Linked DNA regions of Homo sapiens. The protein of the gene in region 1 interacts with the protein of each later gene in a biochemical or structural test. Each region holds a gene or a part of one and is shown in the gene's direction. Other genes may lie near its edges.

Region 1 (15,572 bases):
TTTCACAGCACTTTGTGTTAAGCGCTGACTTATCCCTTGTATAATACTTTCATTGACTGTAGTCCCTAATACTGGACTGAGCTCCTTGAGCGCAGAGACTGTGAGTCTTACCTGTTTTGGCATTCCTAGACACACCTGGTCTGTGGAAAGTGCTCACTAAATGTGAATATAAACTAATGAATAAATGGGTTTCTACAGCAGTTTATACTGCATCACACAGTTCCTCTAATGAATTTCTAGCCCCCTTCCCTGTTGGGGCATACAGTATTTTATTCAGTATTTCTCCTGAAGGCCTCTCTGTGCCAAGCTCAGTTTTAACCAAAACATTGGTGATCTGGTTAAGTCATTACTGAATTATCCACTACGTTGAATTCTCCCAACCACCCCGTCCCAGCCCTTAGCTTGGCCGAAGGAAAATTAATTGGTTGCAAAGTGCGTATCTAATTACAACAGCCAGCCCCCGACACAGAGATGCTCAAATGTTAATTATAACATATGCATCTCAATAACCGACGGTGGCATTTAGTGCAGCATTAATCACGCCACTTGGGCCCCCCAGTGCATACACAAAGCTCCTTTTCATCTGCCATTAGCACAGACTTTGCACTTTCGGCACGGACGTTCTCATCCTTAAAGCCTTTCGGACTCTAAAACCAACGTTTCCCTGTAAGCCTGGACTGCGCCTAAGCCCCCAGTTCTCCCACCGCAGAGGCCCCCACCCAGGGCTGCGCCAGCGCCGTGGGGTCGCTGGGCGGCGGGTTTTGGCGTCGCTAGACTGGGCTGTCTTGGCAGCTAAGGCGACATCCCGAGCGTCCTGGGGCCACCCTGCTCTCCAGGGCCCGCCATCCTGGAAAAGAAAGGCGAACTACATTACCCAGCAGGCCTCCAGCCGCCCTCTTTCCTTTCAAGTCTTTGCACGTGGCCGGAGGGGAGGGCGGGGCCTGAACGTCACTCTCCTACATTCTCTTTCCCTGTGTCAGATCAGGGATCATTTTTTTTCCTTCCTCTACTCCCTCCCCCCTACCCGCCCCTCCCTCCCTGTTTCCCTTCCCTCCCTCCCTCCCCTCTCTGCTGGGTCTGTGCGCTGGGGCGCCCGATCCCCTCCGCAGCTGGGACGCTCCGAACTCGAGGCAGGAGTCGGCTCTCCGGAGCCTCGTCCCTCCCTTCCCCTTCCCTGCCCCCTTCCCCCACCCCCGACTCGGGCTTGGCGCGGCGGCCAGAGGAACCCCGAGGTGAGCATCTCCTCGCCCGTCCTCCTCTTATAGTCATCTCAGCTTGCTGATCGATTCGGGGACCCGGGAGGAGGGCTGCGTGACGTGGGCGTGCTTATAGATAAATCCGGGAAAACCGCCCCAAACAATCAGCCCCCTTCCCCCCATCCCTGCTCCTGGGCCAGCGGGGTGTCCGCACCCATCTACCATCCCCTCCTCCCCCTCGGTGGGGAACTGCACTCCACAGTGTCGCCCCCTCCCTGGGTTTGTCCCATTCCCTGCCGGGTTCCCCGCCCCGCGGGGTGTCGTGGCCCTGGAGCTCCGGCGCCAAGGGGGGCTCTTGGGGGACGCACGGCTGGAGCCCGGCTCGCTTTGGAGCTGCGCGGTGTAGCCGCTGTCATGTGCCGGGTTCCGACCTGGGAGGAGGAAAAGAGCGAGCGCGATTCCTCTCCCTTTTGTTTTGAAGCCCGCATTTGCTGCATCGAGCAGTTGGTTTAGTATCAGCCAAACTTGCAGCTGTTCAGACCGCGCTCCGCCGAGGTAGGGAGCCCGTCTCGGGGTGGCGTTTGGGGGCCGGGGGCTGCGGCACTCGGGGCTGCGGGAGGGACCCCGAGAGTGTGTCGCCACGCCGCCCCTCCCTTCCCCGGTGACTGATTGTGTCTGTGGCAGCGGGCGTGTGTGAGTGTGCGCGCCCGTCCCCGCGGGCTCGGGGATGTCTGTGGATGGCTGTCGTCTAGACAGGGCGCAGCCCCCTCCCTGCGTCCCCGGTGAGCCCGCGGGCCGCGGGGGGAGCGGGGGATGGGAGCAGAGGAAGAAACCAAATCGGTGGACCCGTTGCGGTCTCCCCTTTGGTTATTCCCAACGGTTGTGGTTCTGTTGGCTTTTTTTATTATTCCTGTCGCTGCGGTGCAATCGGGCCTGGGGAATAGATACGCCCGGCGGAGAGGGGTTCACTTGACAGGCTCTGAAAAGCCACCTCTGGGTGGCGAGTGACCCGAGAGGCCGTGGGGTGGGCTCCGGCTCGGGTTCATCAGGACGACGAGCAGGTAACTGTCCCGGGCGCCGGTCATGGGGGAGGGCGGGCGGGGGGGCGATGGCTTGGGCTGCGGCGAAGGTCTGGGGCCTCGGAGGGCCGCGTGCCGGTGCCTGGATGTGGCCGGAGGGGGCGTCCGGGACACCGCGCGCCTGAGCCGAGTGTTTCTCTATTGATGGTAAAAGACAATCGGGAGGGGGGTGGTCCGAGCCCGTTATCTGGGCGGCGTTGGCTCTGTTTGGTTCCGCGGAGTTTTCAGGGTTGGGGCTGGGGGGTGTGAGCACCGCGGGGTGTGCGGCGTGTAGAGGGGAGGGCTGACTGGCGGCGCCGCGTGCGTCTCCACCCCGAGGAGTGAGGCGTCGCCTCCCCCGCCCGGCTGTTTGTGTGTACACACGGCTCCGGTGTGTGTGGGGGGCGGGGACCGCAGACCGCGGCGTAGTGGGGACAAGCGTGGGCCCCGATCCTCCGCGCGACCTGTCCCGCCAGCCCCCTCCTTGTCTAAGTCGGGGTCGTGTGTCCCCGCGCGCGCGCGCCCGAGTTACTTGGAGAGGGGACCGTGCGGCTGTGGGCCGGGGAAGACCGTAGGGTCGCGTGTGCTGGTCTTCGGTGCAGGAGTCCCAGGTCCGCTGTGCGGCCGGAGTCACACAGCCCCTCCCTCCGCGTCCGCGACGCCCCGTGACCCGGCAGACTGGGGGTCCACCCGGCGGCGCGGGGGGTTGGTTTGGCTGCGCCGCCCCCAGTCCACGCTGGGGTGACCCCGCACCGAGGCGTTCTATGGGTGTGCGTGCCCGCGCTCGCCGCCGCTGCCTTCGCAGACCGGGGAGAGAGTCAGCGACTGCCAACCGCAGCCCCGGCTCTTCAGTCTGGGGACAGTGGGAGCCCAAGCCCAGCGCGCCCCAGCCCGGCCCAGGCCGCCGCCCGCCCGGCGCTGTGTCTCTGCGGCCCGAGGATTATCCCCCAGTCCAGGGGCCCGCGCGACCAAGGAGGAAGCCGCTGGAGCCGCCGGCTCGGCCGCGGCTAGAGCCTCCGTAGGGCGAAAGTGACACAGCGCGAGAGAGCGCCGCCGCTGCTGGAGCCAGGGCCGAGAGGAAGGAGCCGCCCAGAGCGCAGGGAGGGGCCGCCGGCTGTCCGTTCCCAGTTCCTCCTGCCCAGGGCCCGATCTGGGCTGAAAACCTCAGGAATCCAGGCTCCTAGCAGGCTCGGGCTGCGCGAGGAGATGGCCTGGCTTTCAAGAAAACCCAATTATACGTGAACAGAATGCACCGAACAGACGCTAGAGGATGGCCAGGACACGCTCAGGTTGTCTGGGGAAACTCCTGAGTGTTTGACACAGGATTCGATTTACACACAGATCACCTCATCTGTGTCAAGTATCTGTCCTGGATAATGGATGCTCAGAGGCAGCAATTTTGTAACACATTCTAGGGCACAGTGTCATCAGTGATTAACAGCTTGCTAGAATAATAATATGTTTGTATGACCTTACAGGGCAGGTTTTCTTCCCCCAGAACCTCCCCCCTCCCCCGCCAGATATCATAGCATTTATTAAGAGGGTCCTGTGAGGTAGGAGAGTATTAGCCCCATTTTACGGATGAACACACTGAGGCTCAAAAATGTGGCTTGCATAAGGCCTCTGGGTGGGGGAAGGGCCACATTCCCCCTTTTCTCAGCTTATGGCATTTAATTAATAGTGGCCACTTTTTTTCTGAGTATGGATTCTTGACACCTCAGGAAATACTGAAGCTAAAAAATAGAGTATATTATGCTGACACATATTCTTTCTCAAAACACTCTTGATTTGTTAACCATTCCTAATGAGAGCAGCCACTAAAGAACGGAAGTCTGCATTGCTGTTATTACCACGCATTTAATAATTTGCTGTTGGTGAATGGATAGCAGCTGTGATACATCCAGTTTCTACCAGAATCATATGTGCATATAATAAATGTATATGGTATGCCTGTTCATGTAACACTTACCTGTGTTTGTATGGCTGTGTTCATTGAGTCTTTATTGAATTCAAGGAGCAAAGAACTTATACATGCCTGCATGGATTTCTCAGAATTCATGCATGTGAAGGCTGTCAGACAGCCTGGAGGGTTATTAAGTTTAGCCAACTAATCAATTAATTAACCATTCACTCAATATGTACTGGGCACCTACATGTTTGTGTATCTAGAAGTGCATACAAAGAAAACTTAACAAATGTTAATTAAGTCCAGCAAATGTTTATGAAGCACCAGCCTCACTTAGGCCAGATACTCTGCTTCTCTACAAAGATAGTAGAGCAGAGATAGTTAAGTTGCAATGCAATAACACAGCCTACAGGAGGGAACAAATCATAAATATTTTAGAGCAGTCACCCTGGAACTTAGTTTCACATATGTTGGTTTCAAGGGGCCCAAGATGCCAGTTCTTATTCTAGAGCAAATGCAGAAGGAAGCGATGGGGAAAAAACACCTTGATAGCCTTGTTACCCTGAACTTCAGGCTGTTTGCAACCTCCCGGGAGGGCCCAGAGGTATGTTCTTCTGTGGAAGTTAGGCAGCTGATGGAAATTACCCTGAAGCCAACCAACAGGTTTCTGGCGACACGGAGCTAAGGAGATGTTCTCCGTGGTCCCGCCCCAGCTCAGATGTGCTGTGACTCAGGGACAGGCTGTGGCTTTGGTCAAGGTCTCACTCAGGCCCTGCCTGGGTGTAGGAGTTTCTGCCTTACAGGTCTGTGTAGGTGTGTTAATACAAGTCTGCTTTTTATCTAATCCCAAACTCACCGTCTGGTCCCAGATATTGTCCTCTAATTTCATTTCTGTTTTGGGCTCCATTGCCCTTGTTTTAAGGTTATGTTGTTTGCAGCTCAGGTCATGAAGGAGGAGGCAGGAGATGGGTGGTTAGGTTGGAGAGAGAATCCTGAGCCCAGATAGAGAACAGGAGGTACAAACATGCAGGCAAATTGCAGTTTCTGAGAATTCTCCACACGTGGTGGCATTTCTGCATAACTTACCTGATAACACAGCCCCATTTGATGTCCTTGGCTTGGCAGGGGGAGGGGGCGTCTACCTCTGGGCCTCACTGCTGACTCACCGGCACCCTGAGCTCAGCTGCTTCCTTTCAGGTTTGGGTTTTCTTTTGCCCCTGCCTCCCGCTGTGTGCGGTTTAATTTAGAACCTTGCTATAATGGTGGCCTTCTCCCTGTGTTAGCACCGTGCTCTCAGCATGCCTCTGACTTTGGAATTAAGGCCAGAGCTGTGGTTCACAACGGGGTGAGAACAGACACATCCTTGGATCTCCGGCACCCAGAGCTGGGGAGGACTTTGAAGATGATCTGATCTTCACGTGAAGACCTGAAGCCTAGGGAAGTGGAATGACTTGCCTAAGGTCATGGTGAGCCCTTAGCAGAGTGGGTAAAAAATCCTGGAATTTGAGATTTCATCCAATCTTCTTTCTATGTACCGTAATGCTTTCTGGAAAAAAGTTAGGTTCTTCCCAAAGAGTGAGAACTCTTTATCTTCTTCTCTCCTGTCTTCTGGTTCTGGGAAGGGCTCTGAAATTCATTTGACTTCTCTTTCCTTCACAACTGGCCCTTCCTGCCTTATCTTCATCTTTGGCATTCATGAGCAAATGAAGGTCTGTATTTGGGAAATATAGGGTGTCTTGGTGTCCTACAGTGCTCTTAAGCTTGGTCTGTGGCTTTCTGGCCCTGAGGCAGGGTCCTCAGGAACCTTTTGGAAGTGTTTGCAAAGCTGGGATGCGTGTGTACTTTTCTAGGAAGAGAATCTACAGATTTCATTTGATTCTCAACTGACTCAAGTAAGGACAAAACTACTGGTAGGGAGAAGGACAGAAAGGTTGGATAGTGGTTGGTTGACACTGGGGCTACTTTAATACGCTGCACTTGATTTGGCTTTACAGTTTGCAAACTATTTCACACAAATTATCCCATCTGCCTTTTATAATAGGTGGTTATCGTTATCAGCCTGTGAGGCAGTTGTTGTTATACCCATTTTGCAGAGCAGGAAGCTGAGCCTTCATGGTTAGTGGCATGCCCAAGTCACGAGTAAGCAGTAGAGCAGGGATATGAACCCTGACTTCAGACTTCAGGTCCAGTGCTCAGGGCTGAGGTGGCTTGCTGTCTGACATCATTATGATGAACAGAAAGCCTTGAACTTCCCAGAGCTTCTTAATGCCTACTGTTCACTCATATTCGGCCACAGAGCCAGACCCAAATGCTCACTTACCCAAGGGGTAGGGGAGATAAAGTATGGGAGGCAGTTACCATAGCAACGATCTGTAGAGTGGAGCCAGTTTGGGATGGTTTCATGGATGAGGTGAATTTGGGAGTAGGCCTGGGTAATGGTGGAGGAGGTTTTAGGCTGGGGCAATGGCCCAAAAATGGTTAGGGGGCAACTAGGTGCTTGGGGTGGGTAGAACAGACCTAAGAGGTTTACTTGATCATCCTGCAGTCGGTGCGAGCTTCACAGTAGTTGTCGGGCTGCTTTTCTATGCCTGTCTTTGTGCTAGGCCCTGGGGCTATGACAGTGAACAGGTACAGCCCCCTGCCTTCAAGCAGCCAGCTTTCTAGTGGGAGAGACAGATGCATAAACAGTTCCATTCAACGTCATGTGGGAAGTCTAGGTAGAGAGAAGCCCAAGGCCCTTACAGCGGCACAGACAAGGGGCAGCCACCTGCTCCGGCCTCAGATGTCAGGGAGGGCTTCCTAAAGGAGACGGCTCAGGAGCTGAATCTTAATGGATGAAAAGGAACTGGCCAGGAAAGGAGATGGGAGACGGGCATTCAGGGAGAAGGCATGGCGTGCGCAGGGTGTGGAGGCATGAGGCTGCCTGGGTGTAGGAAGGAACCGCAAGCAGTGAGGTCAAATGCAAAGGCGGAGATGCAGACAGCGCTCAGAGTGGAGGAGCTTTGTAAGCCTGGTTTCAGACCTTGGCTTTTAGCCTGCAGGTAAGGCATAGAGGAAGGACTTTAATCAGAGAGGTGTACAGCCTTGCTTGGATCGGAAGGGAACAGGACTGGGAGCCAGGCGGCCATGGGACTGGTGAGGCAGTAACAGGCTCTCCACGGCATCCAGGTCATAGGGGGTGAGACCTGGAACAAGGGCCATGCATCTAAGGATGGACCAAAGGTCATACATTAAAATTAGTTGGGAGTAAAGTCCGCAGTGATTACTTAGACTTGGGGGATAAGGGAATCATCTCAGTGGCTCCCAGGTTTGTGGCCTCACTGACTAGATGGACGGCAGCTCTTAACTCAGGTGCGAACTTCTGGTTGCTGGAGCAGGGTCTGCTGGGGTTGGGGTGGGAGGGAAGATCATGGTGAGTTCAGTGCTCCGGTATTGAATTGGAATTGCTGGTAGGATAGTGGGGTGGTGCTGCCCTACAGACAATGCACTGTGCAAGCTAGAGGCTGCAGAAGTGTGTGCCCAAGCTGAGCCCTGGGAGCGGGGAAGCATTGGCCACTGAGCGTAACCACGGTGAGGGCTGCTGTAGACAATGAGAGCAGACCTCTTCCTCCCATTGTCAGATAATCCTTTGTCATGCCGGCCGCTGTCGTCAGGGAAGCCAGGCGGGGATGCTGTGTCATGCTGGAGGCCCAGCTGGCAGAATCCAGCGACAGCCAAGAGCGTGTTTCAGCTGGAAGCATTAGAGTGAGTTAGGGGAGAGGCATTTCGCTTTTTAACATCCACAGTGAGCAGAGCCCTGTCCCAGCCCCTTGGAGTGTACAGAGTGGGGAAGCCCTGGAACCTGCTTCCAGGAGCAGGTAGTTTTGTTGGGGAGAGAAGATATGAACATATGAAGCCACTAAAAAGCTGTAACAACCCCAGGGAAGAGTGGAATGCAACTTAAATAGAGTGTTGCAGATCCCTCTCTTCCTGCCATACTTCATTTTTATAGAGCTGATGTGTTTTAGGCAAACGTCCAGTCTTTGCATGTTTGAATTCTCAGAACCGACAATAGTGCCTGGCACATTGTAAGTGTGTGTTCAGTCTATGTTTGTGGATCTGCAGGGATGTACCCAGAGTTAGTCGTCTGGGGTGGGAGGTCAGTCAGGGAAGGTTTCCATAAGCACGTCCAAAAGGGGCATCCCAAGACTGATTTAGAATACTTTTAGTACCACAGTGGAGTAAAAATCTTGAAAACCTTCCAATGACAGAGCACCTAGAAAGGCTGTGTAAGCTGTAGCTAGCGTCCTTTCAAAGAAGAGCTAAGCTCATGGAATGTAAGGGAAATCCCCAGGGATCTCAGGCAGTGTGGACGGTGAGCTCCAGCTGAGGCTCGTCTAGGCCTGGGGGTTGGGAGAGGTGTTGAGGGGTGCTTCCTGGCCTCAAAGCCCAAGGGTTTGAGTCGTGACTGCATCTCCTCCGAGACTAGAGATGATACCAGGAATCAAGAGCCCTGCCTAAAACAGGACCTGGTAAAAGTTTGCATGCTGGGAGAAAGGATGGACTAGACAGCAGCCCGTCCGCATGGGGGATGGAAAGTGGGTGTGCTGCTTTTTGTCTTGACCTGGATGTGAGGTGGAGAAAAATCTTCCCTAGAAATGTGAGACCTCAGGCCTGTTAGAGCTTTGAATGTCCACTACACATGTGGTCCAGGAGGCCCTCAAGAGAGAAATTAGCATGTAAAGACTTGGGGGCCAGTGTCTTCCTGACTGTGAGCTCTAGGGCATCAGGGGCCTGGGGAGAGTCTGGGGCTCTTTGCCCTTTGCTGACTTAAATCTCCACCTTGGGAGATGCTTTGCGATCAGGGCAGGGTAAGTGAGGGAGGAGAGAGAAGAGAAAGGGCAGAGGTGCCCCTCGGTAGGAACCTTTTAAAAGGGCCTTGGAGACAGCTGCACAACTCGGGGAGGCATGTGCAGGATGGCAGAGAAGGACAGTTCCATCCAAGCCTTCATCTCTTAGGAAAAAACTTCAGATGAGCCCCGTCTAGGAAGCCCAGAACATTCTCCCTACTGCATACTCAGGTCAGGTTCTTACAGATAAGGTTTCTTTCCAGGGTCCCCTTAAGGGTGCCCTGTGCAGATTGCAGTTGCTACTGGTCCTCTAGACTGGGCACTACATTGTCTTCCCATGCTCAGAGTCTTTAGTTCCTACAGTTTCAAACTCAGGAGACATCTTAGAGGTCATCTGGTCAACCCTCCACCTGGTGTGGGAATCCTGACTGCAGCAGCGCTTGGTTCCAATGTGCTTGCTGCTTGTGGCCGGGAGTTTATTGCCTTGGAGGCAGCGCCTTCCCTTATGTTATAGCTGGAAAGGCCTTGTACTGAGCTCTGGCCACCCTCCTCGCTGGCCATTTTCACCCATGGCCCCTGCAGCTGTTGTGAGAGATGGTTTCTAGACCTTTCACCATCCTGCTTGCTTCTGCTGGAAGGGCCTCCATTTGTCAAGCTGAGATTCTGTGAGAATCCAGCCAACTTCTGTCCTAACTTACTTCACACAGAGGCAGCTTTTGAAGATAGATGTGAGGGTAGCTGAGCCGGCTGCATAGGCGCAGTCTGTGATGGGGGAGTTCTGAGAAGCTTTGGCTCGGTGCTTTTCGGATGATCATGAGAGAGGCAGCAGCACCTGCTGCAAGTTCCTTCCTCCGACGCCCAGAATACATTTCAGCTTATAAGTAAGTAACTTGGGAATCCCATGCAGGGAGCTGTGTGGAATTTATTGAGTGCAGGGAGTTTATTGAGTGCCTGTTAAATGCCAGGCACAATGCTGGGCGCTCTCTGTGTGCCTCGCTAAATGAAAGTAACCTCTCTGAGGGAGACAGAGAGGCAGAGATATGGTAATGCCTAACTGTAGTTATGACAATTGAGCCCTGAAGGGATTCAGAAAGAATGTGTGTGGTTCCATCCAGAGTGGGTGGAGCTGACACATTCCCCATGCTGTTCCCTTATAGGGCCTTCCCCTGGGGTAGGCAGTATCATGATCTCACCAGTAGCTGGGAACACACAGGCCTGTCCCACACTCTTGGGGCATTTGCTGAGATACTTACACGTTTGAACCATGAGATCAAGAAAGTGACCTGCTAGAGAATTCACATCTTGGCATGTCACCAAACAGGCTGGTGTTTACAAGCAAAGTATTTTTTACAGCATGCGGTTTATCTGTCTCCGGTATCTACCTACAGTACCCTGGGCACTCTCAGGAAGCAAAATGTCTTTCTGTTCCTCCATCTCCTTGATGCTTGGCATCTGTGTGGGTCACATATTCAGCAGATTGGGTAATAAAGAGCATGCGTTGCCTTTGCAGCAAGGTTGCATCAGATGGCTGGACGTGCCTGGATGTGCTCTGCCACTGGCATGAAGGACCCTGTGCAGACAAGGCCAATAGTGAAGGTCAGGGATTCCGAGAAAGCACCCAGTTTCTCCTCTTCTCCCTCTAAAAATGGTTTCTTCTGCCCACATTCTATTGATTTGCCTTAATCCTTTTAGCTGTTAACCTTTGCCTCAGTTTAGTGGACACACATGGTATCTGCAGTGGGTCTGGCTCTAGGAGTGAGGTGAGATGAATTGAGGTAAGCCTGGCAGGGTCCCTGCTGCCCATCTGCCCATCTTGCTGGGGAAGACAGAATAGCCTTGCGCTAGTGTAAGGTGGTAAGTATGGGGTCAGGAGAATGAAAAGGGTGCCAAGGCAGCCAGAAGTCGGATGACTGTGAATTTTTTTTTTTTCCAATGGATAATCATGCTGGGACACAGATATAAACTGAGGTTGTCCTGGGTAGGTGAGGGCTTATGGACACATGGGCCAGGGAGGGCGTATGCATGTGGGTCATACCTGACACTATTATCAGACACTGTTATCAGTCATTTATACTGCAGGGTGCACATAGGGGTGATGGGGGAGGTGCTCGTGCACAAGAGGAATTGGCAGCTGTTTCCTTCCTTTGCTTAGAGGACGTAGGGGAAAGCATTATCTGTGGGGACTGAACTCAGAATTCAGATGGGGCTCAGTTTACAGCCACAGGGTTCTATCTTATATCTCACCATGATCTCAGTTTGGGGATTGGGGTGGAAGTATGGACAGATGAAAACCATCGGGCTTGTGGGATGTTATTGGCTACAGGTAAAAGAACAGTGTACTAACGATGGCTTTAAAAACAAGGTGTTTCAACTCAGCCAGAAGTCTAAAGGTAGGAGCTCTAGGGTTGGTTCATTCAGGGAGTCAGCGATCATTTCAAGGACTCTGTCTAACCTAGGCTGCCATCTTCAGCACATTGGCCTTTGTTCTCAGGCCAGTCCCCTTATGGTCATAGCATGGCTGCCACTGCTCCGGGCATCATGTTCTCACATAACTGCGTCCAAAGGCAGGCAGGAAGGTTAGATTCTCCTTGTCTGTCTTAATTTGTCAGGAAGGGAAGCCTTTCCCAGAATTCCCCTGCTGAAGATTCTATCAAGGCTCCTTGAAGAGAAACGGGTCAGTACCCATGCCTCCGCTCCAGTGGAGGAGGAGAAAGCAAGTCCCTGGTGCTTTCGCCTCATCTAGAGCAAGAGGCAAGCTGTGTTTGCAAGGAAGTGGGGAAGGGAGCAATGGTTGGCTAAGCAAAGAGGAACATTTACTTCACCAAGTTTCAAGATGTTTTTATTTATTGGGGGGGAGTTAGTGAATTAGCTTTACTTTTTTTTATATCTCAATATTGTTGAGGTTTTTGTTTGTTTGTTTGTTTTTTTAAAATCTCACCCCCTAGTTCTGGCAACCACCAACCTGGTTTATATCACTATAGGTTTGCCATTTCTGGTAATTATTACTTCTTAAGCCACAGGTAATGCTGGTGCATAGGATCCCAGGTGTTCCATGGATGCCTTTTTTGTGGTCCCAGGACATGGGTTCTGTGGTCTGTTCTCCCAGCAGCTCCTCCACTTTCCCGACACTGGGGCCAGGTGGAGAACCCCAGTAGGCAGAATTGTCCAGAGGGAGGGAGCATATGTCACTGGTGGCCTAGGCAGCAGGACTGGAAAGGCCTGAGGGCCTGAGGCTCCAGTGGGTTGGTAGAGGATGGCAGTCACCTTTGCAGGCAGCTGTGGGTTGGGGAGAGGAATTGGTGCTCAGCTGTGGCCTGCACATTCTGCAGAATGAGTTCTGTTGTCCCTGCTGATTGGGAAGCCTGGCCCCAGGGAATGCAGGGTGTGGGAAGATGGTGGTGGATGCCACCTTCCCCTCCCCAAACCACTATCCCCTCTATACATACACATGCAAACAGCCCAGGCCGTGGGGCTGACCATGCAAGCTAAGAGACAAATCTGTCCCCTCTGGGCTCCTCTCCACTCTGCTCAGGGTGTCACTGTGTCCTCCTCCCCCTCTTCCCACAGCACAGTCTGTGGGTTGCTAGAGCACTTAGCACTTCCCATCACTCCCTGCCTCCTCATCATTCCTTGGATACTTGCCTATCTGTCCCCTGGGATCATGAGCACCTTGCTACTGTCCTGGGAGTCATCAGGGCATTTCCTATAGGGCTAGGGTGGTGCCGGCCACAGGGTCCATGCTTCATGGAAAAAAAAGTATTTTTAAGGCAAGATACATATTTCTAGAAAGGGACTTGTTCATTTGGTTATCTGTCCAGATTCCAAACCAGTTCCGTGTGGCACTGCACAGTGCCCTGGACGAGAACTTACGGATCTCTACATGTTTTCCTCCCTAAGAGGAAGAAAGGTAATCAACTATCCTGTTCTGGGCTGAATTGTGTCCTCTCAAAATTCATATGCTGAAGTCCTAACTCCAGCGCCTCAGAACTGGATTGGTGGCCAGGCCTTTAAAGAGGTAATTAAGGTAAAATGAGATCATGAGAGTGGGCCCTAATCTAGTATGACTGGTGTCCTTAAAAGAAGAAGAGGACACAGATAAGACACAGATGGGGTCAACAGTGTGAGGATGCAACGAGAAGGCAGCCATCTGCAAGTCAAGACGGAGGCCTTGGAAGAAGCCAGCCCTGCCAACACCTTGATCTTGGACTTCCAGTCTCCAGAATAAATACATTTCTGCTGATGAAGCCACCCAGTCTATGGTGGCCTGCTATGGCAGCCCTAGCAAATGAATATGGAAGGATTCTCCCCTGCAGCTTGTGGAGGGAGTGTGGCCCTGCTCACACCTTGGTTTTGGACTTCTAGCCCCCAGAATTATGAGATCATACATTTCTGTTGCTTTCAGCCACCTGATTTGTGGTCCTCTGTTATGGCAGCCATGGATACTAATACACATGCATTGTGTGTTATGCTTGTGTTTAGGACTTCACCCCCTAAGTGTATTTCATCTTTCAGCTCTGAGTGTAGTTGTTATTCTTCTCTTTTGCAGATACACCTGAAAAGTTAGCATTCCTCCTGAGGTCACACAGGGAAGCCAGGCTAGAAACCCAGGCCTGTGTGGACTCTGGCCTGCAAGCTGTTGCATTTGGGCAGTGGGGAGATGTCTGTAAACGCAGGGATTGAACAGGTGGTCTTTCTCCTGAAACCTGGGTGATCCAATAATAACTTTCTTTTTCTTTTTTTTTTTTGGAGACGGAGTCTTACTCTGTCACCCAGGCTGGAGTGTAGTGGCGCGATGTCGGCTCACTGCAAGCTCCGCCTCCTGGGTTCACGCCATTCTCCTGCCTCAGCCTCCCGAGTAGCTGGGACTACAGGCGCCCGCCACCACGCCCAGCTAATTATTTTTTTTGTATTTTTAGTAGAGACGGGGTTTCACTGTGTCAGCCAGGATGGTCTCTATCTCCTGACCTCGTGATCCGCCCGCCTAGGCCTCCCAAAGTGCTGGGATTACAGGCGTGAGCCACCGTGCCTGGCCTAATAATAACTTTCAAAGCCTAACAGTTGCTAAGTATTGTGGTGTCATAGTAAGCACTTTGCATGTGCTGTCTTCATTAGCCATTACAGCTTCTGTTTCATAGATGAGAAAATGAGGGCACTTCTTCCAACGGGGACATTTAAGCAAGAAAAGCCAGTGACTTGGCCAAAGTTGCATACCAGGCTTGCCAGTGAGAAGACAAACTGAGGACGGGTTCTCTGAACTGTGCCCTCTTGGCTCTCTAGAAAGAACTGTGTGGAAATTTCTGGATTCCTGTGTCTTAGTCCATTTGGGCTGCTATAGCAAAATACCATAGACTGAGTAGCTTATGAACAGGAGAAACTTATTTCTTGGGCTAGGAAGTTCAAGATCAAGGTGCCAGCAGATTCAGTGTCTGGTGAAGGCTCAATTTTTCATAGATTGCACCGTCTCACTGCTTCTTTTCATGATGGAATGGGTGAGGACGTTCTCTGGGGTGTCCTTTATGAGGGCACTAACCTCATTCATGAGGCTCTGCCCTCATGACCTAATTGCCTCCTGAAGGCCCCACCTCCTAATACCATCGAGTCAGTGGTTAGATTTCTAACTTGTGAATTTTGGGGGGATACATTCAGACAGTAGCGGAGGTTGAGTGTTTTACCCCAGGCCACACAGCTAAGAAGTGGCATAACCAGTTTTGCTCAAGCTTTGCCTGTCACACACAGGGATTGGCAGGTTCCCCTGTAGTCCCCTGATGTTCTGAAAAGGTCACTGGTCTTAGATTGGCCACCTGTGATCTGGCTGCTCTCAGGGAAGTCACTTCACATCTGGGTGCTTTGTCCTCGGTGACCTCAGGGCTTGGACGATATAATACTAAAGTCTCTGATCCTCTCATTCTGAGGTTCCCAGTGCCCATCCTTCTATAATACAGGGATTAGGAGGGAGAATCCCTGAGATGTTTTTGACATTTGCCTACACCTGAGGGAACAGTTGCACATCTTCCTGATACGGCCAGTTGGAAGTGTGGTTTGGCCATTCATTCCTTCCCTACAAAATTACCTCTTTGCACAAGGTAGAAATGATCCCCACCTTGTGCCAGGTTTGTTCTAGGCTTTTGATGGTGTGGGCTTTGAGTGACGTCCACAAAAGCGTGTGGGGAGAGGGTTGCTGGTGAAGTGATGTCACTGTGATTTCCTCCTCTAGGTGAAACAAAAACGTGGTTGCCTGCAGCCTCATTCGCACCAGAGAGAAGCCAGCCACGGGCGTGGCAAGCCTTGGAGGCCCAAGTTGAGCCAAAGACCTCTGTGTCTTTCCCTCCATCCTGTTTCCGTTTGCCTTTAGGCCCAGGTGGCTGGCAGATGACGGTGAGGAGCGGGTGATGGGGTAATTCCCGGAATGCAGACTGTAACCAGGGCAGTCAGAACAAGGATTGTTAACCTGCAGCCGCCCAGCTCCTGGCTCATCCCACGAGGCGTTCGTGATTTTACTCACCTCATTAGAAAAGTTTACTTAATGTATCTGTCGTAGATTTTAGAACTGGAAAAGAGGTTGAGTGACTTTCTTTTTCTTTTT
Region 2 (15,572 bases), on another chromosome or scaffold:
CAACTGGTTAATGGATCAGTAATCTCATCATGAATGAGAATGGAGAGAGAACAGAAGACAATTCTTCTCACACTTAACAGGAATTAGGATGGGTCAGTGCAGTCTGGGTACGGTGGCTCACAGCTATAATCCCAGTACTTTGGGAGGCCGAGGCAGGTGGATCACCTGAGGTCAGGAGTTCGAGACCAGCCTGGCCAACATGGAGAAACTCAGCCTGTATTAAAAATACAAAATTAGCTGGACGTGGTGGCTCATGCCTGTAATTTCAGCTACTCGGGAGGCTGAGGCAGGAGAATCGCTTGAACCTGGGAGGCAGAGGTTGCAGTGAGCTGAGATCATGCCATTGCACTGCAGTCTTGGCAACAAGAGTGAGACTCCGTCTCAAAAAGAAAAAAAAAAAAGAATGGGTCAGTGCAGAACAGGAGGAGGCAGACATTTGGCAAGTACAGGATCATACTGTTTAGTATAGACATGTCTGGAAAATTCTTACCCTGGAGGTTCATATTCAGATGGAGGAGTCTACACTGGCCAGATAACCTGGAGGAATGCCAGACCTGCACTTTTATTATATGGATACAGGCTTGGGACTACACAGCGGAAACACCCACCTGAGATAGCCTCAATTAGAGACTTACCTTGCAGAGCCTTCTCAGTATGACAGCGAATCCCTCTGTATGGCCAGCCAGGGGAAGCACGAGGTTGCTGGAAGTGAGTAGTTGCTCTGCACCGTCAAGCATGCACACATCTGTCTAGATGTGCCCGCGATCTGTGAAACTCGGGCTTTGTTAGAATAATGGAATTCTTTGGTGGTCGGTTTTATGAAAGGCAATATTGTCACAATCCTGTCAACATTGACATTGGTAATGACTTCAAGCTGGGACTAATGGCATAGAGACAAATTAAATACAAGATGGGAAACTCTACACTCTCTGAACTTCTTAGAGTCAACTTCATAAGCTCCAGCATCAGGCCGGATGTTGGATCAATGAGATAAGGTTAACCCATAGAAATGCCAGAACTGAAGCTGAAAACTAGATATGGGTTTTTCTGACTGCCACACACACTGCAAAAATTTGAAGCAAATCTCCCATCTTAATGACTTTATAAACACATACCAGAGATGAACGAAATAAGTTGATTTCAGCCATATGATAGCCCTGGACTACTGAAGTGTGGACACCCAAAAGGAATCATAATTTAGTTTGAAGTCTAAAATCTAGTTGGTTTTATTAGACCCCCAAACACAGTGGGCACACTGCCAAGGAGCTCCATGACTTCTGCTCTAGTAAGACAGCCCTGGATAGACAGATGCAGCTGATAGGTTATGTTCTACATCTAGTTTGCTTTTGTCCTGCTAAACTCCAGTTTAGTATGGTTTGATACACATAGTTCACTGATATAATGCTTTTATTTTTTTGGGTGGGGGACAGAGATGAGGTCTCACTATCTTGCCCATGCTGGTCTTGAACTCCTGGGTTCAAGTGATCCTCCTACCTCAGTTTCCAAAGTGCTGGTATTACAGGCACAAGCCACTGTGTCCCACCAGCCTTTGAATATTTCTTGACATACAGTTTGAAAGAAAACAAAGTATGTGTCATGGTTCAGTAGCATTTTCCTTTTATTGCAGCTTTACCACTCCTGAAGGCCCTAAACCCCGTTCCAGATGCTCTGACTGGGCAAGTGCAGTTGAAGAAGATGAAATGAGGACCAGAGTTAACAAAGAAATGGCAAGGTACACATTTTGGACCACCTTGAAGTGTTAATCTGTGGCGTTTTCAGTAACACATTAAATTTGATATTTGTCTTAGAACAGTGGTTTTCAAAGGTCTGGGCTCCAGACCAAAGGCATCAACATTTCCTGGGAACTTGTTAGAAATACAGATTCTCAGACCCTTCCCTGGGCCTGCGAATGGGGTGGGGCCTGGCCATCCTGTGAAAAGCCCTCCAGGCGGGTCCACTCTTTCAAGCTTGAAGACCACTGTCCTCTTGGTGGTAATCCTTCCAAGAGTGGAAGTAGGTGCACAATGGTGTTACTGCTGGATTGCAGGCTGGAGGACTATCAGAACTAACTTTCTTTTTTTTTTTTTTTTTTTGAGACAGTCTCGCTCTGTTGCCCGGGCTGGAGTACAGTGACAAGATCTCGGCTCACTGCAACCTCTGCCTCCCGGGTTCAAGCGATTCTCTTGCCTCAGCCTCCTGAGTAGCTGAGATTACAGGCACAGGCCACCACGCCTGGCTAATTTTTGTATTTTTTGTAGAGATGGGGTTTCACTATGTTTGTCAGGCTGGTCTTGAACTCCTGATCCGCCCACCTCGGCCTCCCAAAGTGCTGGGATTACAGGCATGAGTCACTGTGCCCGGCCTAACTATCAGGAACTTACTATAGTCATTTGTTACCACCGACCTTCTGTGTGCGGTGCTCACACAACCCAGCACAGTAGATGGAGTGCTCTCTCCAGATGAAGGAATACATTGACACTTGGCTTAGGCAACAAACAGCTCAGAAATGCCAACATACAAGGAAAGGTCTCAAACTTGGATTCTGTGAACCTCTTGCAGTTGCACACAAGATTGTTGTGTGTATCCAAGTTCTTGCAAACTAAGCTACTTCGTCTTCGTTGACTCATTACCTAATGCATCCTTAACCATGTTTAATCTCCCTTGATTATCAGTGTGTTGATCCTTTCTCTTTTGATGAGTTGTCTAACTCAAACCCAGTTGCAAGGACTGGGTTTATTCAAACCCAGTTAAAATGTGGCTCATAATTGGTTGAAGTATTTTACAAGATAATTTTAGCCAACAAGTGGCTGATAAACAGGGTCTCAAGAAAAATGTGTCTTGCGTGTCAGCCGCGGAACGATACCTAGACTACCTGTTTTCATTTTGGCAGCCAGTGATGGTATTTATATCAGCCTCCTTTGAAAAGGGACGGGAATATGTGGGAATTGGTTATTGAACATTTGGGGGAGTTATTTGTCATTTCTTCTGGTATCAAAATGTGTGGGTGGATGTATGCCTTGGTAGAAGAAATGAACTAGGAGTTCACAGATGAGAGTACCAGTGTTTTTAGTGAATTATTGCATTTATATAGGTCTTGACTTCCTCAATTATAAAATTAGAATGTTTGACTTGACTTGTATAGTTTGTGTTGCATGCACAAGTCTTAGAACAGTTCTTGCATACCGATAGCCTAGTTGCTCCCTCAAGTCACCCCTTGCCAGGGGTTATCTGCAGCTCTTATTCATGCGTATTCCACCTGTCCAGATTGTCCTGTGAGTGGACCCTATTTGTTCTTCAGATATCTCATGGGTCTGTGCCTGAAAATTGTCCTGTTTTGGAAAACAGCACTGTTTGGGCTGCTCTGTTGATTATACCCTTTGTGATGGAAAGCTACGGCTTTTATTTACTTACTTATTTTTTTGAGATGGAGTCTTGCTCTGTTTCCCAGGCTGGAGTGTAATGATGCAATCTCAGCTCACTGCAACTTCCGCTTCCTAGGTTCAAGCGATTCTCCTGCCTCAGCCTCTCGAGTAGCTGGGATTATAGCTGTGTGCCACCACGTCCGGCTAATTTTTGTATTTTTAGTAGAGGCTAGGTTTCACCATATTGGCCAGGCTGGTCTTGAACTCCTGACCTCAGGTGATTTGCCCGCCTCGGCCTCCCAAAGTGTTGGGATTATAGGCGTGATCCACCTTGCCTGGCCAAAGCTGCAGCTTTTAGTGCAACCTGTGTAATTTAAACTGCTGGCCCTTTAGTGAGCCATTACTGACAGGCCGGCTTACTTCCTGACAGTAAGAGCGGTATGAAATGTCAGCTTACTATGCTTTAAGGAGACTAACAGACTACAAACTAGCAATATAAGAGTATGAAAATGGATTTTCTGCATGGCATGGTGGCTCACACCTGTAATCGCAGTACTTTGGGAGGCCAAGGCGGGCGGATCACCTGAGATCAGGAGTTCGAGACCAGCCTGACGAACATGGAGAAACCCCGTCTCTACTAAAAATACTAAAAATTAGCCAGGCGTGGTGGCAGCAACCTGTAATCTCAGCTACTCAGGAGGCTGAGGCAGGAGAATCGCTTGGACCCGGGAGGCGGAGGTTGCACTGAGCCGAGATCTCGCCATTGCACTCCAGTCTGGGCAACAAGAGGGAACTCCGTCTCAAAAAAAAAAAAAAAAAGAAAAAAAAGAAAATGGATTTTCATCATACCTGAAAACCAGTCTTTCTCATCTGTGGTACTGGAGAGAATGAGGCCCTGCAGCAAATGATTTGCAGGACTAATCTCTGAATCGTACAAAGATGGTGTTATATAGCCAGTGCTACTCTAGATGCACGGGAGATAAATTACTTCATTACCTTCTGGCGTCCAAACTGCACTGAACACCTCAGCAAACTTGGGTGGATTTTAGATTTTGAGAGGAGGCACAGTAATACATGACATAATTTAGATACCTGCATGACAGGCCAGGGGTGGTGGCTCACTCCTGATCTCAGTACTTTTGAGAGGCTGAGGCGGGAGGATTGCTTGAGCTCAGGAGTTCAAGAGCAGCCTGGGCAACACAGACCTCCATGTCTCCAAAAAAAGAAAAAAATTTTTTTGGAGATGGTTGTGGCGGCACTTGCCTGGAGTCCTAGCTGCTTGGGAGGCTGAGGTGAGATGATTGCTTCAGCCCAGGAATATGAGGCTGTGGTAAGCCATGATCGTGCTACTGTACTCTAGCCTGGGTGACAGAGTGAGACCCCATCTCAAAAAAAAAAAGATACTCACATGAACTTGGAGCTCAAGGTAGCTCGTGGTTTCAACGTCAGATTGCGCTAGACTCCTTTTGGAGATGTCATACTTTTTTTTTTGCAAAACTGCGTTCTGGTAATGACTGCAATAGAAAGCAGATGCCTCAGGAAGTTCATGAGGAACAAGAGAAAAGGGGGCACGTTTGGTCTCCAGGATTGGAGAAGGTATGCAGTGCCCAGTAGGCATATGAGTCCCATTAGTAAGTTTGGTGTTTTTAAAATAATTTATTTCAATTTATGTTTTGTTTTTCTTTTTTTAAGGCTGCCAAGTTTTAGGGAATGTAAATTTTTGTTGTGTGGATCTCACTACTTAAACTGAACCTGACAAAGATTTCTTTTGGCCCACGGAGCTTCTGGATTGCATAGGATGGTGTGCCTGCGGGCATCAGGGTGGAGCTTCCTCAGACCTGGCTGCTTTATTTTTATATCTTTTTTAAAAACAGCAATATTTATTTTGCCCTCAGATATAAAAGGAAACTCCTCATCAATGACTTTGGAAGAGAGAGAAAATCATCATCAGGAAGGTAAAGGCTGTGTAAATGTTTCTTTTCTAATTTGATAGACCTGTAATTTGTTAAAAAAAAAAAATTGTGACTGTCAGAAATGCTGACTGTCGCAGTAGCATTTATTAATACCTTTTTCACTAATTTGAAATACTGTATCTGTTGTGTACTAAATTCCCATACATGCAGTCTCCGGACTATTTAGGATTCATATGGTTGGGAATCTGGAGTGAATCTTCCATTATTGTGTTTTGACATTTTCTTGGCTTACCTTACATACATGGTGATCTTAATTGCAGGGCTTATTCTGTTAATCTGTTGTTTTTTCAGTTCTGATTCAAAGGAGTCTATGTCTACTGTGCCGGCTGACTTTGAGACAGATGAAAGTGTCCTAATGAGGAGACAGAAGCAGATCAACTATGGGAAGAACACAATTGCCTACGATCGTTATATTAAAGAAGTCCCAAGGTAGTCTTGTTTCAGTGGCATGTCTTGAACAAGCTGTGTGGCATTGCGTTTCTAAAGAGTTGCTTAGATTGGGTAGTACAAATGATGCTGGGGATAGTTCACACCTGCTAAGAGCTATTTAATAGGGACTTACTGGGGCTTATGACGTAAATAAAGAATGGATTGGCAACTGGAAAACTAAAGACATGAAGATTTTAAAAATCATTTTCATATAATTTTGAATGTTAGATAACATTTTATTTCTTAGGAGTCAGCAATCATAGATGTAAGCTTATTAAAATACATGATGGGGAAAAATGAAGTTCAAGTTAAATATTGTAAAATTCTAATTGGAGAAAAAAAAATTGGCATTGCCCTATTGTCTTTAAGCAGCATGTTCTTGCCTATCCTGGTCCCTCAAACACACAGACACAGAAGGATATAAAGAAAGCTTTAGTGTTTTCCTGAACTTTTTGGCAGGATTGGGGTTGAAATTTACATTTCTGGGCCAGGTGCAATGGCTCATGCTTGTAATTCCAGCACTTTGGGAGGCCGAGAGGACTGCTTGAGGCCAGGAGACTAGCCTGGGCAATATAAGGAGACCTCATCTCTACAAAAAATTTAAAAATTAGCCAGGTGTGGTGGTTTGCACCTGTAGTCCCAGCTACTTGGGAGACAGGTGGGAGAACTGCTTCAGCCCAGGAATTCAACGTTACAGTGAACCATTAATCACACCACTGCACTCCAGCCTGGGCTGCAGAGTATGAGACTTTGTCTCTTAAAAAAAAAAATTTTACTTTTGGCTGAGTGCAGTGGCTCATGCCTGTAATCCCAGCACTTTGGGAGGCCGAGGAGTGCGGATCATGAGGTCAGGAGATCGAGACCACCCTGGCTAACACGGTGGAACCCCGTCTCTACTAAAAATACAAGAAATTTGCTGGGCGTGGTGGCACACATTTGTAGTCCCAGCTACTCGGGAGGCTGAGGCAGGAGAATCACTTGAACCTGGGAGGAGGAGGTTGCAGTGAGCCGAGATTGCACCACTGCACTCCAGCCTGGGTCACAGAGCAAGACTCCATCTCAAAAAAAACAATTTTTTTTTTTTTTTTTTACTTTTTTGGAACATAGCTGGCAAAGGAATAGTAAGATTCAATGTGATGGTGCTTTTTTTTTTCCCTCCTGACCGAGTCTTGCTGTTACCTAGGCTGAAGTGCAGTGTTATATCATGTCTCACTGTGTATTCATTTTTTTGAGACGGAATCTTGCTCTGTTGCCCAGGCTGGAGTGCAGTGGCGCAATTTCAACTCCACCTCTCGGGTTCAAGCGATTCTCCTGCCTCAGCCTCCACAGGCGCCTGCCACCACACTTGGTTAATTTTCGTATTTTCAGTAGAGATGGGGTTTTACCATATTGGCCAGGCTGGTCTCGCACTGCTGATCTCGTGATCCGTCTGTCTCTGCCTCCCACAGTGCTGGGATTACAGGGGTGAGCCACCACGCCCAACCATCATGGCTCACTGTAGTCTTAACTCCTGGCCTCAAGCAATCCTCCTACCTCAACCTCCTGAGTAGCTGGGACCAGCGGTGCATGCCGCCACACCTGGCTAAACTTTTAAATTTTTATAGAGATGGGAGTCTCCCTATGTCGCCCAGGCTGGTCTTGAACTCCTGGCCTCAAGTAGTCCTCCCAAAGTACTGTGATTACAAGCGTGAGCCACTGTGCCCAGCGGATAGTGATTTTTTTGAGACCGAGTTTCACTCTAGTCCAGGCTGGAGTACAATGGTGCAATCTTGGCTCACCGCAACCTCCGCCTCCCAGGTTCAAGCGATTCTCCTGCCTCAGCCTCCCAAGTAGCTGGAATTACAGGCATGCGCCACCATGCCTGGGCTAATTTTTTTGTATTTTTAGTACAGATGGTGTTTCTCCATGTTGGTCAGGCTGGTCTCGAACTCCTGACTTTGGGTGATCTGCCTGCCTCGGCCTCCCAAAGTGCTGGGATTACAGGTGTGAGCCACCGCACCCGGCCCGGATAGTGCTTTTTAATTTTTTAATTTTTTTAAACATATTTGTTCATTTTGTAGGATCTCAGTTGATTTTTTATTTATTTATTTATTTTTGAGACGGAGTCTCCCTCTGTCACCAGGCTGGAGTGCAGTGGCACGATTTTGGCTCACTGCAACCTCCGCCTCATGGGTTCAAGTGATTCTCCTGCCTCAGCCTCCCGAGTAGCTGGGATTACAGGTGTCTACCACCACGCCTGGCTAGTTTTTTGTATTTTTAGTGGAGACAGGGTTTCACCCTGTTGGCCAGGCTGGTCTTGAACTTCTGATCTCAGGTGATCTGCCTGCCTCAGCCTCCCAAAGTGCTGGGATTACAGCGTGAACCACTGTGCCCGGCTTTTTTTTTTTTTTTTTTTTTTTTTTTTTAAGGTGGAGTCTTGCTCTGTTGACCAGACTGGAGTTGCAGTGGCATGATCTAGGCTCATTGCAACCATCGCCTCCCAGGTTCAAGCAATTCTTCTGCCTCAGCCGCTGGAGTAGCTGGGACTCAAGGCATAAGCCACCATGACTGGCTAATTTTTGGTATTTTTAGTAGAGATGAGGTTTCATCATGTTGGCCAGCCTGATCTCAGGCTCTTGAGTTCAAGTGATTTGCCACACCCAGCAGCGTTTGTTTTTTTTTTTTTTGGAGGTGAAGTCTCGCTGTGTTGCCCATGCTGGAGTGCAGTGGCACGATCTCGGCTCACTGCAAGCTCTGCCTCCCGGGTTCAGGCGATCCTCCTCCCTCAGCCCCCTAATAGCTAGGATTACAGGCACAGGCCACCACGCCCGGCTAATTTTTGCATTTTTAGTAGAGACGGGGTTTCACCATGTTGGCCAAGCTGGTCTCGAACTGCTGACCTCAGGTGATCCACCCACCTTGGCCTCCCAAAATGCTAGGATTATAGGTGTGAGCCACCGCTCCCAGCCCCTAGCTGTTTTTTTGTTCTGTTTTGTTGTTTTTTTTAAATAGAGACGAGGTCTCACTGTGTTGCCCAGGCCATTTTTAAATTCCTGAGCTTAAGTGATCTTGGCATGACCTCCCAAAATGCTAGGATTACAGGCATGAGCCACCATGCCTGGTGATCTGTAATATTTAAAATAATACTAATCTCATAGTTTGGTTAATCTTCAGGCTAATGTGGAAATGTGAGTGGCATGTGGGCATGTGCTAGAATAATCTTTCTCCTGTAGACACCTTCGACAACCTGGCATTCATCCCAAGACCCCTAATAAATTTAAGAAGTATAGTCGACGTTCATGGGACCAGCAAATCAAACTCTGGAAGGTGGCTCTGCATTTTTGGGATCCTCCAGCGGAAGAAGGATGTGATTTGCAAGAAATGTATGTCTTTATTGCATTCTTGTCCTGTGATTCTCTGATTGGTCCAGTGACTGGAGCAGCTGCGCACCACTGGGACAGGAGGTCTGGTGCCAAGTCCCCCAGCAGCTGTTGGGGAGCAGAGCAGCTGCTGCAGCTCGGTGCTGAGTTCTTCTGTACTGGGAGGGAGGCAGCTGGAAGGAAGAGTTTGCTTCCTGGATTGAATTTATTTTTTCAAGCAAAGTCAATCTGGGAATACAGTTTTTGTTTGTTGTTTTGCTGTTTTTGTTGTTGTAGTTGTTTTTCCCCTAAAAATTACAATAATCTCTGGAATTTGTTTTTTAAATATAAATATCCTAAAAAGTATTTGAGTCATTTCGGCTCAACCATGAAAATAAAAGTTCTTAATTAAGGAAGGAAGGCTTTCTTTCTCTGTTGGCTTTTTTTTTTTGGGAGATGCTCTGTCACCGAGGCTGGAGTGCAGTGGCGTGATCCCGGCTCACTGCAACCTTCACCTTCTGGGTTCAGGTGGTTCTCCTGCCTCAGCCTCCTGAGTAGCTGGGATTACAGGCACGCGCCACCACGCCCAGCTATTTTTTGTATTTTTAGTGGAGACGGGGTTTCACCATGTAATTCCTGACCTTGTGATCTACCCGCCTCAGCCTCCCAAAGTGCTGGGATTACAGGGGTGAGCCACTGCTCCCAGCCCCGTTGGCCTTTAAACTTGTGCCTAGTTGAAATGTCTCAGGCCTGAACTTTTGCTGCATCATGGCAATACCTGCTGACCAGGAAGGTAGAGAGAATGATCGTGTACCTCCCTCCCTCTATGTGGGGTTTCTTCTCAGCTCCCCTCTGGTCCTGAGCCTCTCGCTTCCTCAGACACATTCTTTAAACAAACAATTAGAGTTTCTCCTCTGTGCTGGGAAATTTTTTAGAGACTGGCATGTTTGAAACGATTGTAAGTGGCTTTACCAGTTTGTCCTGACAGATGTCATTTGGGTTTTTTCCCCCAGTGTGACACCATTGTCCCATTCTCTGAGTAGAAACTTGGAAAAATTAGTGATAATGCATAGTATGTTCATCACAGTGCTCATTTCTCCCCCTCAAAAATTGGGCTTATGAGTGTTTCTGTTTCCAAGGATGCTTGTGTGGTGAGCCCAGCAGATCTTTTTGTTGCTTCTCATTGCCATCCGCTTTCTCTTTGCTGGATTGATTGGGCTGGGATTAAGTCTGTCAAATAGTCACTGAAAGCTGACCCCTCAGGGAGCCTCGGGCACACTGTCAGTGTTGTGGCTGTACCATATGGATGGGGTTTGTCTGTAGCGCCCCGTCTCCTGGCTTTGTTAAGTTAGTGCCTGACGCACATGTTGGATCTTGTTTAACAGACACCCTGTAGACCTTGAATCTGCAGAAAGCAGCTCCGAGCCCCAGACCAGCTCTCAGGATGACTTTGTAAGTACTTTGGATAAGTCTTTCAGCTTGGGGGTTGCAGGTGAATTGTTAATAACACATGCTGCCTTATAAACTGAAGTTTGGACTGGGCACGGTGGCTCACGCCTGTAATCCCAGCACCTTGGGAGGCCAAGGCAGGCGGATCACCTGAAGTCAGGAATTCAAGACTAGCCTGGCCAACATGGTGAAACCCTGTTTCTACAAAAATACAAATAATAGCCAGGTATGATGGTGGGTGCCTGTAGTCCGTGCTACTCAGGAGGCTGAGGTGGGAGAATAGCTTGAACCCAGGAGGTGGAGGTTGCAGTGAGCTGAGATGGCGCCATTGCACTCCAGCCTGGGCAACAGAGCAAGACTCTGTCTCAAAAAAAAAAAAAGAAAGAAAACCATGTGCTGCGCGTGGTGGCTCACGCCTGTGATCCCAGCACTTTGGGAGGCTGAGGCAGGCAGATCACCTGAAGTCAGGAGTTCAAGACCAGCCTGCCCAACATAGTGAAACCCAGTCTCTACTAAAAATACAAAAACTAGCTGGGTGTGGTCATGCAGGCATGTAATCCCAGCTACTCAGGAGGCTGAGGCAGGAGAATCACTTGAACCCGGGAGGCAGAGGTGGCAATGAGCCGAAATTGTACCACTGCCCTCCACCCTGTGTGACAGAGTGAGACTCTGTCTCAAGAGAAAAGAAAACCGTTTTTAAATGTATCAGTTTAAATACTGTCTCCTGTCCTGAGACAGCCACTATTTGTGGTTTTGTCTAGGCTTTTACAATTCTTTCTGTGCTTATAAACTATGTACATGGCCAGGCACAGTGACTAGTGACTCCTTCCTGTAATCCCAGCACAATGGGATGTGTGCACATCTAAACGTCAGTGTCTTGTAAATGGTACATGTGGTTTCTCTTTGCAGTGTTATTATTAAAATCTGTCTCAGTTGCACGTGAAGTGTACACCTTGCTGTGCATTACATCACATGATTTACCACATAAGGAGTGGGGTGTAGGAAGGGGCCCCTGTTTTCAGGGTGAGATGAATGTCAACCGAGCCATGCTTCTGTTTTCCAGGATGTGTACTCTGGCACACCCACCAAGGTGAGACACATGGACAGTCAAGTGGAGGATGAGTTTGATTTGGAAGCTTGTTTAACTGAACCCTTGAGAGACTTCTCAGCCATGAGCTAACTGCCCCCTGGCGGCCAGGAAGAGAAACAGCTCCTCCCCGACTAGGTGGAAGGCTGGCCAGGCACCAAGCATGTGTGTGCACTTGTACCTGGTGGTTTCTCTGTTAGCAGTCCATTAGCTCATGCTGAATTATTTTTGCCTTACTTTCTTAAGAAACATTAATTTTATGTATAGTGAGTATATTTTGCATGTTTTAAATTGTAAATGGAGCTAAGTCCAAGAAAGTACTTGAAGCTCTCTTCCAGCGAGCTTAATTGCGTAATCCCTGTTGTCCTCCAGGGTAAGCTGACACGTCTACATAACTGGTTTTCCACAGGCATCTTCAGTTATTGCTTGTCAGGTGGACTGTTTTGGATTTAACCATGTAATCCATGGGACCAATTGAGAGTCAGCTACTTTTATAGGCATCAAAGTATTCTCAGACACCTTTAATATCTTTATGGAAACTTAATTTTTGGCCTTTTATCAATATGTCATAACAGCATTCTGAAGTCAGACATTGTTAAATTGAGCTATTAAACTAATGAGTTTTATGTAAGTTATATGGTCTTAATTTGGTACTTGTAAATAGCACTAGTTAGACTCTTTAGAATACTCCAAGAGTTAGGGCAGCAGAGTGGAGCGATTTAGAAAGAACATTTTAAAACAATCAGTTAATTTACCATGTAAAATTGCTGTAAATGATAATGTGTACAGATTTTCTGTTCAAATATTCAATTGTAAACTTCTTGTTAAGACTGTTACGTTTCTATTGCTTTTGTATGGGATATTGCAAAAATAAAAAGGAAAGAACCCTCTTTCACTGACTGGGGCTGTTGCCAGGTGGGCCAGCTGCCGTGAGAGCTGACATGTTTGGAGGGTCAGAATTGTGTCTGCCTTTCTTGTGTCTGAAGCAAGTGGCACTCAGTGAGTGGCGCTGGGTAAAGGGCCTTCTTTATTTTTTTAATTTTATTTTTTGAGAGTTTCGCTCTTGTTGCCCAGGCTGGAGTGCAATGGTGCAATCATGGCCCACTACAACCTCTGTCTCCCGGGTTCAAGCGATTCTTCTGCCTCAGCCTCCCAAGTAGCTGAAATTACAGGTATGTGCCACCACACGCAGCTAATTTTGTATTTTTAGTAGAGACAGGATTTCTCCATGCTGGTCAGGCTGGTCTCGATCTCCCGACCTCAAGTGATCTGCCTGCCTCGGCCTCCCAACGTGCTGGGATTACAGGTTTGAGCCACTGCGTGTGGCCGGGGGCCTTCTTTAATAGGTGTCACATGTCACATTTGGTCTGATGCTTATTCATCAGCACTGGCATGACAGCCTTCCCTGTCTCTTGGGAGAGACCCTGCAGCAGGATAATCATCAGTCTGAGGGTGCCCTGCTCCCACTGCCTTCACCCTTGGACCGTGGTTGCTGCCTGCAGACGTGACCACTAGTCCACGCCACAGCGACCTGTCCCGGAGATCCCTCCAAGTGATGCTGGGCTGGTCTTAAGCCAGGGATGGGCTCAGGTAACTTTGTTCTAGGAGCTTGAAGAGGGCAGAAGCTCTTGTTTACTTAGCTTGTTTATGGAGACCTCAAGCAGTGTCAGGTGGAGGGTGGTAGACACTGGGGTTGTAGCACATGCCCTGGTGAGGAGACCCAGCTCTTTCAGGGTGGTAGGAGGTGCCTGATAAAAGGTGACATCTGGGGAGGGCAGCAAGCAGAGGCCACGAAGTGGGAGCACTCAGCATTGACTTCAAGAGTCCTAAAATGTGGGAGGAGTTCTGGGGGCCTGACTGCAAGCCTCAGTCTTGAGAAGGCAGAGGTGAAGGTCCTTGTTAGATGGTGACAGTTCAGTGGTGCTGTGGCCTCCATCATGACTGACGGAGAGCAGCTCTCCTGGGTTTGTCACTAAGGAGCTACTTCCCCTAAACTGTGAGCAGGTCCTTAGCGATGAGCAGCACTCAGTGCTCTTAGGCTAAAATTCAGTGGCTTCCAAGCAAAAATGACATCCAGAAGACAGCTGGAAAGGTGATCTAAGCTAAAGCTGAGGGTGTGGCATGAAATCCTCTGTTAACCATAGAAAGTTGAACCTTTCTCTCTCTTTTCACTGGAGTGCAGTGGTGTGCCTTCAGCTCACTGCAACCTCCACCTCCTTTGGCTCAAGCAATTCTCCTGCCTGTCTCCTGAGTAGCTGGGATTACAGGCGTGAACCACCACACCTGGCCAATTGTTGTAGTTTTAGTAGAGTTGGGGTTTCGCCATGTTGGCCACGCTGGTCTTGACCTCAGGCGATCTGCCCTCCTCGGCCTCCCAAGGTGCTAGGATTACAGGTGTAAGCCACCGCGCCCAGCTGTTAGAACCTTTCTTTCCCTCAATAAGACTTCTTGCTCCTCTGCAGGAGCCCAAGATGGTGCTAGTCTGAAAAGCCCCACAGGTGTGGCTTCTAATGAACTGAACCCTATTAAGAGTCACAGAATTAACATGGGCGGAAGCTGCTGCCAGGCTGGACTGAAAGGGCCAGGCAATACAAGAGGCCTTGAACCCTCAGGTTCCTACCAGCGGGAAGTAGGAAGATAAAACTCTCCAGCTGCAAACACAGGCTGCCTTTTGTGAAAAAGAAGGATAATTCAGAGATGGAGCCAGGAGCCTGGAGGACTGAGGCTGGCTTAGGGGACTGCCAGGTGATGTGTGCCCAGCTGGATTTCAGACTTGCTGTGGGCCAGGGACTCCTGGGAGCATTTGCAGCAGGTGTCCTAGGTCTGTCCCCGCTGTTCATTGCGGTGGGGGTGTGTGTGTGTGTGTGTGTGCATGTGTGTGGTGGGGGCTGGGGACAGTCTTTACATGGAGAGAGGCTCAACACAGGAGCTGTCAGGAGCCTCCTCCACAAGGCAGTGGATTCAGGTGAGATTCTGGGCTTTTTAAACTAGAATGCTTAGTTTCAAATCTAACAACACATGTATGGGACCTGTATGCTGAAAACGGCACAACCCTGATGAAACAAAGATCTAGTAAGTGGAGAAATGTAACTTGTTCATGGATTGGAAGACTCAATATAGATGTCAATTCTTGGGCCGGGCGCAGTGGCTCATGCCTGTAATCCCAGCACTTTGGGAGGCTGAGGTGGGCGGATCACCTGAGGTGGGGAGTTTGAGACCACCCTGACCAACACGGAGAAACATCATCTCTACTAAAATACAAAACTAGCCAGGTGTGGTGGCGCGTGCCTGTAATCCCAGCTACTTGAGAGGCTGAGGCAGGAGAATCGCTTGAACCTGGGAGGCGGAGGTTGTGGTGAGCCTAGATTGTGCCATTGCACTCCAGCCTGAACAACAAGAGTAAAACTCCATCTCAAAAAAAAAAAAAAAAACAATTTTTGCCAGGTGCAGTGGCTTACATTGTAATCCCAGCACTTTGGGAGGCCAAGACAGGTGGATCACCTGAGGTCAGGAGTTCAAGACCAGCCTGGCCAAGATGATGAAACCCTGTCTCTACTAAAAATACAAAAAATTAGCTGAGCATGGTGGTGTGCGCCTGTAGTCCCAGCTACTCAGGAAGCGGAGGCAGGAGAATCGCTTGAACCTGGGAGGCGGAGGTTGCAGTGTGCCGAGATTGCACCAGTACACTCAAGTCTGCGTGACAAAGCGAGACTCCGTCTCAAAAAAAAAAAAAAAATTGTCAGTTCTTCTAAATGGATGTATGTAGTTACAATGGAATTCCTATCAAAATCTCAGCAATATTTTTTGTAGATGATGGTTCTAAAATTTATGCGAATGTAAAGGAACTAGAATAGTTGAAAGTTTTGAAAAAGAACAAGGTGAATAGAATGAGCTTATCTTTTTCAAGGGTTATATGACATCAGGACTGTGGTGT

What was found.
Region 2: the proteins of CTIF (region 1) and SLBP form a complex in vitro, tested with the Homo sapiens proteins (one study listed by BioGRID).

Annotation. Positions count from the first base shown.
Region 1 is NC_000018.10:48,538,081-48,553,652, forward strand, and holds the start of CTIF (CBP80/20-dependent translation initiation factor), read left to right. Parts: upstream 1-950; 5' UTR 951-1,232; intron 1,233-1,607; exon of another isoform or gene 1,608-1,751; intron 1,752-1,922; exon of another isoform or gene 1,923-2,257; intron 2,258-15,203; exon of another isoform or gene 15,204-15,364; intron 15,365-15,572. UniProt on the Homo sapiens protein: Specifically required for the pioneer round of mRNA translation mediated by the cap-binding complex (CBC), that takes place during or right after mRNA export via the nuclear pore complex (NPC).
Region 2 is NC_000004.12:1,689,756-1,705,327, reverse strand, and holds the end of SLBP (histone RNA hairpin-binding protein), read left to right. Parts: intron 1-1,627; coding exon 1,628-1,732; intron 1,733-5,257; coding exon 5,258-5,317; intron 5,318-5,626; coding exon 5,627-5,764; intron 5,765-8,976; coding exon 8,977-9,126; intron 9,127-10,487; coding exon 10,488-10,554; intron 10,555-11,614; coding exon 11,615-11,731; 3' UTR 11,732-12,597; downstream 12,598-15,572. UniProt on the Homo sapiens protein: RNA-binding protein involved in the histone pre-mRNA processing.